Linked DNA regions of Homo sapiens: regions 1 and 2 are each linked to region 3. The links come from fine-mapping of genetic effects on gene expression. Tissue or cell type: whole blood. Region 3 holds a variant in brackets; each other region holds the start of a gene. All regions are shown on one strand. Distances are from middle to middle.

Region 1 (2,683 bases), 610 kb before region 3:
GGCCAGGGCTCAGTTTTTCTTCATGCCTTTCTATCTTCATGACTGCTCTGGCTACAACCATGCATTGGATGGAGTGTTTCTTAGAAAAGGTTTCCTGGGCAGACATTCTAATAGAGATCCACTTCAGTGGAGATGCATTCAGTTTTATTTGTCTTTTTCTGCTGCTTTAAAAAAAAGTTGAGATGTAATGTACAGTAAAATGCACATCACTTAAAAGTTTAGTTTGAGGAGTTTTGACAAATGTATGCCCACATCCCAGTCAAGACATGGGACATTTCCATCACTCCAGAAAGTTTCCTCATGCCTCCTACAGTCAATCTCCACTCCTCAAAGACAACCACAGTTCCGATTTCTATTACCATAGAATAGCTTTGCTGGTTGTAGAACTTCACATACATGAAATCAAACCAATATGGTCTTTGGCCTTTTTCATTCTACATAATGTATCTGAGATTGTTGCTATATCAAAAGTCTTTTTTGTGGCAGAGATTATTTCACTATATATATATACCACGTTTGTTTATTCATTCACCTGTTGATAGACATTTGGGTTGTTTTCAGGTTTTTTGACATTATGAACATTTTAATATGTCTTTTTAGAGTTAGAAGGAACTGTACATTAAATGCTGAGATTACAAAAGATGACTTCAGTTTTGAATAAATTGAGTCTGTAGTACTTGTAGGACACTCAGGTAGTATTCTGGGCTCCTCTTGGAGTACAGTCTAAGTTGCAGAAGAGAGACAGGGTCTAGCAATGTAAATTTCTGTAGTCGCCAGCCTTGATTCAGAGTTAAAGCTATGGGAAAGTCCTCAGGCAGAGGACAAACATTAGACAAGAAAATGCCCATATATGAAACCCTGCGAAGCATCAGTATTTGAGGAGCAGACTAAAAAGGAACCGTCTGTGGAGGCTAAGAGAAGCATGGCCATTTATCTTTGTGTCCCGATCATCAGGCACAGGACCCCACACACAGTCACTTCTCAATGTGCTAAATTTCACAGAATGCGTCCAGGGTACCTGGTTCTGGATAGATCCGGTAGAAGGAGATAGACCGGGAGGGCAAATGGCATGAGGAGTCTCACAGGCCAGAGTGATTAAAGGGGTGTATCGGGGCGGTAAACCCTACAGACTCTACCTGTGCTTATGCGGGGCTGGGGAGGACGAGTCATTACAGATGAAGAATTAAGTAAGGTCAGACCACTCAGGGCCTTAGATGGATGTCACATTGAAGAATTTAGACTCCAACAGGCCTGCCACCCTGGGAGGAGTCATCGCGGATTCTGGAGAAGGGCGTGACAGAGGAGATTTCCTTTCGGGAAGTGTAGTCTGGCAGCGGTGCCCCGGTGGTGGCGGCGGCGGTGCTGCTGTTGCTGGTGATCGTGTGGTGGTGTTAGCGGCGATAGTGCTTTCCACTGGGCTTTGGCTTGGTAGCCGCTGAAAGAGAACAACGCTGCCGCTGCTGCTGATTTCATGCCATTTCCTGACCCGGCGCTGTAACTTGGCCTCTGAGCCTTGGCCACAGAACGCAGAGGCCGTGGCATCTGGCCGCAGCTGGGCTGCAGTGCGTGCGCGCCTGGCCTGGTGGTCCGATGGGAAGCCCGGGGCGGGGCAGCCGCGGGGCGGGGGCGGGGCGTCGCGGAGATAGGCCACGCCCCTGCCCGCCCGCGCAGGCGCGCTGCGGGTCGTTAGCTGTCAGAGCCAAGCGGCGGGCTGGCGGCGGGCTCCGACGTCTGCGCCAGGACCTGGCTGGCTGAGCCCGGCGCAGCAGCAGCAGCCAGGGCAGCGCGGCCCCTACTCCCTGTCAGGTCGTAGAGGCGAGCAGGGACCAGCTGGTCGCCGGCCCCTCGGGCAAGATGGGGAACCGGGAGATGGAGGAGCTGATCCCGCTGGTGAACCGTCTGCAGGACGCGTTTTCGGCGCTGGGACAGAGCTGCCTGCTGGAGCTGCCGCAGATCGCCGTGGTGGGCGGCCAGAGCGCCGGCAAGAGCTCGGTGCTCGAGAACTTCGTGGGCAGGTAAGCGCGCAGGGCGCGGAGTAAGGATGCGGCAGTGGGGCGACCCCGCTGCGGGCCGTTGGAACGTGGACGGGCAGCGGGAGCCAGAGGGTGGATGGACCAGGCGCTGCGGTGGAATGGGGGGCAGAGTGGAATGGGGGGCAGAGTGGCGGTGTCCGTGGGGCGGGCGGGGTCCTCCAGCTCTGGGCATCCTCCGTCCCCTGCCACCCCCCGCCTGGTGGCCCTCCTGCCTGCCTTTCATCGTGCGATACAAAGCCATTTCCTCCCTGTCCTCCAGTCGGGGAGTCGGGGGAGGGGTCCGCCCCGGGCTCGACCCCCACCCCCTCGGTGCGCGCCAGCCCCGGGCAGCCTCCCTGCGTAGCGCGCCGAAAGCTTCCCAGTGCCCCTCTCCTGTTTTCCCAGCTCAACACCCCCCTCCTTTTCCTGTCGCCCTCCGTGAGGCTCCCTGTGAGGCTGTGGGGCTTTATCCCCCGAGCCCCCTCCCTTAGGTGGAGATGCTTTCCTTCTCGCCAGGGTTCTCGTTCCTCTCAGCTGTCTACTGTTGCCTGCCTCTAGCTGGGGAGGCGGGGTGCGAGGAGAAAGACGTCGTTTGTTGTGGTGAAGCTTTATCCAGAGACGCTTCCCCACCATTCTCCTCCCGGAGAGTCGAAGAATAAAAGGTGGTGTGT
Region 2 (2,683 bases), 79 kb after region 3:
TCACCCTTTGTATAATTTCTCTAACATCAAATTGACTTATATCCAAGAATCACAGAGCGGATCAAATCATTCAGTTCTTTGGGACTATAATTAACATCCAATTCAACTTAGAAGGTTCATAAGGAAATTCCGCGGCTCAAAATTAGGCGTTAGGTGGGCATTTTACTGAGGGTTTTTTCCCTACGGCCACATGAACAATAAGTAACCCGTCCTTTAAACATTTTTCACACTAAACATTATGCCATGTTCCAAGGCACAGACCATTGCAGCCTCCGTCCCCTCAGCGGCGTAAACACTTGGAATGGGCATGCTGCCCCGTTACTTAGTATTGAGAAGTGGTCACTTTTTGCTCTTCTTAGGTGAGTGTAAGCGACTGCCTTCCCCACTTTAGGTGAACCCCAGGACTTGGAGCGTCTGTGGGTGCTCCTCTAATGGGGACAACTCCTCCCTTCCGACTCCATCGCAGAGAACCCAAAGTTCGAAACCAACAGAACGAAAAGCAACGAAGCACACTTAAAGTGAGGAACCCGGCAAGCGGCGAAATTCTTGCTGAAGAGAAGAAAAAGCGAAAGGTTTTCCGCTGCAACCAATCAGATGAGAGGATTCTTGGCACGCCCCTTTCTATCTACCAATCAACATCTAGCTCAATGGGGCAGTCCATTGCCACAGGGAAAGGGCTTGGTGCAGCTTCCCTCACAACACACACGTCATTCTAGGCCATTCCACGAACTGTGCTCAAAAGAGGAAAACAGTGCAACAGTTCCAAAGCTGATCAGTCTCGTGGTGAGCAGCGAAACTATAGACTTCTCTAACAAAACCATGGATTCTAGGAGGGACTGGGAAAGAGAAAAACGAATTCTGGAAGGCAAACTACAACTCCCAAAGGCCCTTGCGCGGACTCAGCGCGCGAGGGACGAAGGGCGGTCCACTGTAAGGGGAAATGCTGAGGATCACTGGGCTCCTCCCGGCTTTCTGAACGCAAGCCAGCAAGTGGGCGGGACCTGGGGCGGGCGGAGCGGCGAGAGCATCTGCTCCTGCGCTTTGTGGTCTCCTGCCTCCGGCTTCTCCGCCTGCGACGTCGAAGGGGGCGTGGCCTGCGCAGAGGCTGGTGGGGGTGCGGGCGCCGCGGGACTTGGGTGACGCGTCCCTTTCCAGCTCAGCGGTGTGTGAGGTGTCGCGGCCCCGCCGGCGATTGGCTGTTGAGAGGCGAGTACGCGGCGGCCGTTGGTCGCTGGCCTCACGGAGCAAGGCCCCCGGCGGGCGGGGAGGATATGGGGCGGCAGTGGCGGCTGCAGGAGGCGGGCGTGGACGAGCCGGTGGCTGCAGCGGCGGCGGTCCCCGGAGTCCTGTGAAGCGCCCCTGTCCGCGCCTCTGTGGGGCCCTCAGAGAGGGCTGCCAGGACGCGAGCCACTGAGGAGCCGCTCAGCCAGCGCCATAGCCCTTAGGACTATCGGTCACATTCTCGCGCTCCTGCTCCGGCTCCTCCATCTTGGCCTCGGCAGTGGCGGCTGCCGGGAGGATGTGCCGCCTTCTGGCAGGGGGAAGAAGGAGGAGAAGATGAAGAAGCACCGGCGGGCCTTGGCCCTGGTCTCCTGCCTCTTTCTGTGCTCTCTGGTCTGGTGAGTAGCCGCGACGACAAGGGAGTTCCCGTGAGGGGAGTAAATGGGAGGGAGCAGCCCAGGTCACACCCCCTGGTCATTTTGGCTTTTAGGGTCCGGGTTTCCAAGGCCCCCGTGGAAGGGACAAACCGATTACTTCTCGACTCTCCATCTGACTGGTCTGGTAGTGCTCTGTGCGGAGATTTTCATGGTGTATTTTGGAATTTACAGAGACTCAGTGGGAGAGAGAGAGGTGCCAAGGTAGAGGGAACCACCAAGTGCCTTTGTACTCAGTTCCTCTACCCCTTGGAGACGGTGCAGGGTTTGGGGTGGGTGTTCAGATTGATGGTAAGTAAGTTGCTCCGATTTGCCGCCAGTCTTTGCGTTCTTAGTGTGGTAAGGGGATAAAGCACGTCGGATGTGATGCGTTCCGGACGTGCGATTTTAAAACGTGAGTGGTCATGAAGGTAAGAGTAATGTATAAGCAGTAGTTCTCCTGGACATTTCTCGCACAGCGTTTGATCCCAAGTACACTCGGGCCGCTGTTTTTGGAAACTTGGGGGGCGTGTGTGTATGTGTGTTATGAAGCACTTTTTCAATTGGTTTGGTGGAGAGGGTGTCTTAGATGTAGTGTGTGTAGTAGTTTTTGGTAATGCCCCTTAGTGACGGGAAGGTAAATGCTGTATTTTCAAGGCGGGAAGAGTGCTTTGTCCCTAAAGCACTCCTTAAGTTTTACGGAGTTTCTGTTAATCCCAGGCACTTCTGGAGTTTTTTGAGGAGCAGAGAAAGCTTGTAAGTCGAGGGACTGCTGTCACCGTACTTGGAAAAGCCATTCTTTCCTCCCAGGGAATTTCTTCAAAGATGTGTGACAATTGATGACTGAAAAGATGCTTCTTCAGTCTAGGCGATTTGCTGTTTGTTATATTAAAATAGAAATTAAGTTTCCTGTTTTGCTTATTTCTGCAAAGCACCAACACTATTTTCATTTTTATGGATGCCTTATGGATTCCAGAAGCACTGAAATTGTAGAGTTGTTGCTCACATAAAATAATACATAAACAAGGGGAAGAGAAAACACTCGCCTG
Region 3 (2,683 bases):
TGGCTTCTGGGGACTGGCTGAAATCTGCATCATACCTTGGCCAGGCTACACATAGGTTGCTGTCACTCTCCTGTCACAACTGCCATCTGCTATCCAGAGGACAGCTGCTTGGGAAATGAGGGCCCCATTAACATTCCAGTGCCTCTGGCTCTAGACCTGATAAAACCAGAGCATTGTACTGTGAATGTGGACAATTCCCTCTCCATTCCTGTTATTGCTGCTGAGCTGGTCGTAAGGAAACCGAGTGAGAAGGGAATGCAACAGAAGAAAAAGACCAAAGACCTGGGTTTCAGGGCTGGGAAAGAAAGCAAGACAGAATGGAGGAAATGAGGCCTGCAGGACATGGCGTCTCAAATGTTTGCGTCGCCTTTAAAGTAGCCTGTCACAGCTGCCTTCCACGACTCTTCAATGCCCTCATCCCTTCTCCAGATAGAAATGGAGCAGCTCTTCTTGGAGGCCAGGCTTCAGCTGATAGCAAGTCTGAGGTAGAGTACAGCACAGATCAAAGATTGCTTTTTACCTTTAAATGTAAAGTGTAAAGGGACAGGATTAGAGCATCCGCCTCTGTCTTTTTGAACACAAAGACCATTATCGGTAGGGGAAGGGAGACTTGGAGAGTTTATATGATTGACAAAAGTCACCCAAGTTGTTTGTGAGCCAGGACTGGAACAGAGCTTTTTGGGCGTCTAGCCAGTGTTCTTCCCCAGTGCATTACATAGAATGAATTTGTTGTACTACAACACTAATGTTCTGTAACGTTTCCCTGAAGACCGTGTTACAATAGTGATCTTCATTTATATATGTATTTTTCGTTTTATATATTTAGGTTGATTGTGTCTATATTTAGACCTCATAATTTAAATTGCTTACAATGACTCATTCATTTGCCCAATGTTTGTTGAATACTTGCTGTGTGCCAGGTTCTATCATAGGTTCTAGGAATACAAAGATGTGTAAAACATGATTCTTGCTCTTAAATATAATAACTCTCAGCCCGGTGGAGGAAATAAACACATTTAAAATCAAGAATAGTGCAAATACAAAGAAAGCTAGACCAAGTTTATGATGCAATCAAAGAGGCAGGCACCCAACTGAGGTTAGGAGGGTGAGAAATGGTAGCAGCCCAGGAGAAAGGTTTTCTGAGGATGTAACACCTACACTATGTCTTAAATGAGTAGCTATCAAGGCCAGGTGGGACAATATATAAGCATTTCATCCCTCAGATTCTAAGAGATGACAGTCATTATGTTATGGGACTCTGTACTCACATTTACAGTTGTCATTAACCTAGCAAGATCTTGCAATGCACTTTGGGGATCTTGCAAATAATATCTGTTGCTTGATTTGCAATGAGCTCTGAGATTCCACTTCCTATAGGGTCTAATAGTAGTCTTAGCAGAAACCAGAAGTCTGGAAAAAGGTGAAGGAAATAATTTCAGTGAAGAACTTATA[T/A]CTCTACTAAAAACAAACCTGCCCAAGAATTCTTCCATATCTGCCTCCCCTTGTCCAGGTCTTCCTCATCCCTTCAGACTGAGTACAAATTCCACTTCTAGGAAGCCTTTCCTGATTTCTCCAATCAGAAGTGGTCTCTCTGTTTTCTGAAGGCACAGAGGTATTAGTGCCTCTTGTATGATATCTAGTGTGTCCTACCTTAATTGCAGTTTCAGAAATGTACCTCACTCTCATACCTCAAAGATGTGAGGGATGGAGGGAGGAGCTGGAGCTTCAGGGGATATCACCCCCAGGGGTATCAGGAAGACATGGTAGAAAGTTGAATCAGCCCAAAGCAGAGGAGTCAATATCCACAGACATTTCCTCTCTAGTCTCTCTTCTCACTCCATTCAACCTCCCACCAGACAACCTGTCCATCCCAACCTACATTCACTTACCCGAAGCTGATTTGCTAGATTATTCTTCCAGGTTGTTGTATAGTGTTTCCTGGGCTTGCAACACCCTCACCATCCTTGTTCACTCCACAAACACCTACCCAAGCATTGCCTGTTTTTTTTTACCCTTCTCAGACCCTTCCCTCTCTGCCCCACCCCCAGTTAAGCTCAATGACCCCTTTCAGCTTCACTGGAGCCTCGATATATTTCTGTTGTAGCACCTTCAACACCATCATACTTCTTGATGTATAGGCTACTGGATGGTGAGCAGCTTGAGGTCACAAACTATGTCTTATTTATTTAAATGTCTCCAGTACCTAATGAATGGGTAAATGAATGAATTTGTATTCTTCTTTTGTCTTCCTTAGAAACTTCCTTCCAGAAACTTTGCTTTATTCGTCGGTATGACCCCCGTCACAGCACCCTTTACTTGGTAGCCTCACAATAGATGTTTACTGTTGAATGAATGAATCTAGTTATTCACACACATACTTTGACATACCAACCCACAACATTGTAATACTGAGTTGATTCTTTTTAGAATGCCCTATAAAAATGAAGTGTATTTTAAATGTTTCTCAAAAGAATCCAACTTTGTTAACAGTTTTTAGCCCTCAAACCCCCCATGATGCATCACCTAAGTGCCATATGTCTCTCACAGGATGAAGCTACTTGCAGAACAATCTGGCAAAGGTCATCCTAGGAGCACACCTCAGGAACTCCTCACTTTCTGTTCCTCCTCTTTCTGTTCCCCACACTTCCCAGGGCAACAGGAATGGGTCAAGGCACACCATGTA

The links. PIP is the estimated chance that this variant, and not a neighbour inherited with it, causes the effect.
Region 1: it holds the start of DNM3, and the variant in region 3 is fine-mapped to the expression of DNM3 in whole blood (INTERVAL, PIP 0.99).
Region 2: it holds the start of SUCO, and the variant in region 3 is fine-mapped to the expression of SUCO in whole blood (INTERVAL, PIP above 0.99).

Annotation. Positions count from the first base shown.
Region 1 is chr1:171,839,803-171,842,485 of GRCh38, forward strand. It overlaps DNM3 (dynamin 3), which reads left to right and starts at 1,696. Exons shown (of 21, transcript NM_015569.5): 1 at 1,696-2,015. The coding sequence starts at 1,855. RefSeq lists a silencer at 1,511-1,740 and an enhancer at 1,941-2,120.
Region 2 is chr1:172,531,879-172,534,561 of GRCh38, forward strand. SUCO (SUN domain containing ossification factor) reads left to right here and starts at 1,272. Exons shown (of 24, transcript NM_014283.5): 1 at 1,272-1,619. The coding sequence starts at 1,558. RefSeq lists enhancers at 471-580, 641-890, 1,501-1,660 and a silencer at 1,211-1,380.
Region 3 is chr1:172,452,705-172,455,387 of GRCh38, forward strand. All of the region lies in intron 3 of C1orf105 (chromosome 1 open reading frame 105), which reads left to right. Among named protein-coding and RNA genes, the nearest start is that of PIGC, 10 kb to the left of the region's middle. The variant T/A (reference allele first, on the strand shown) is at 1,453.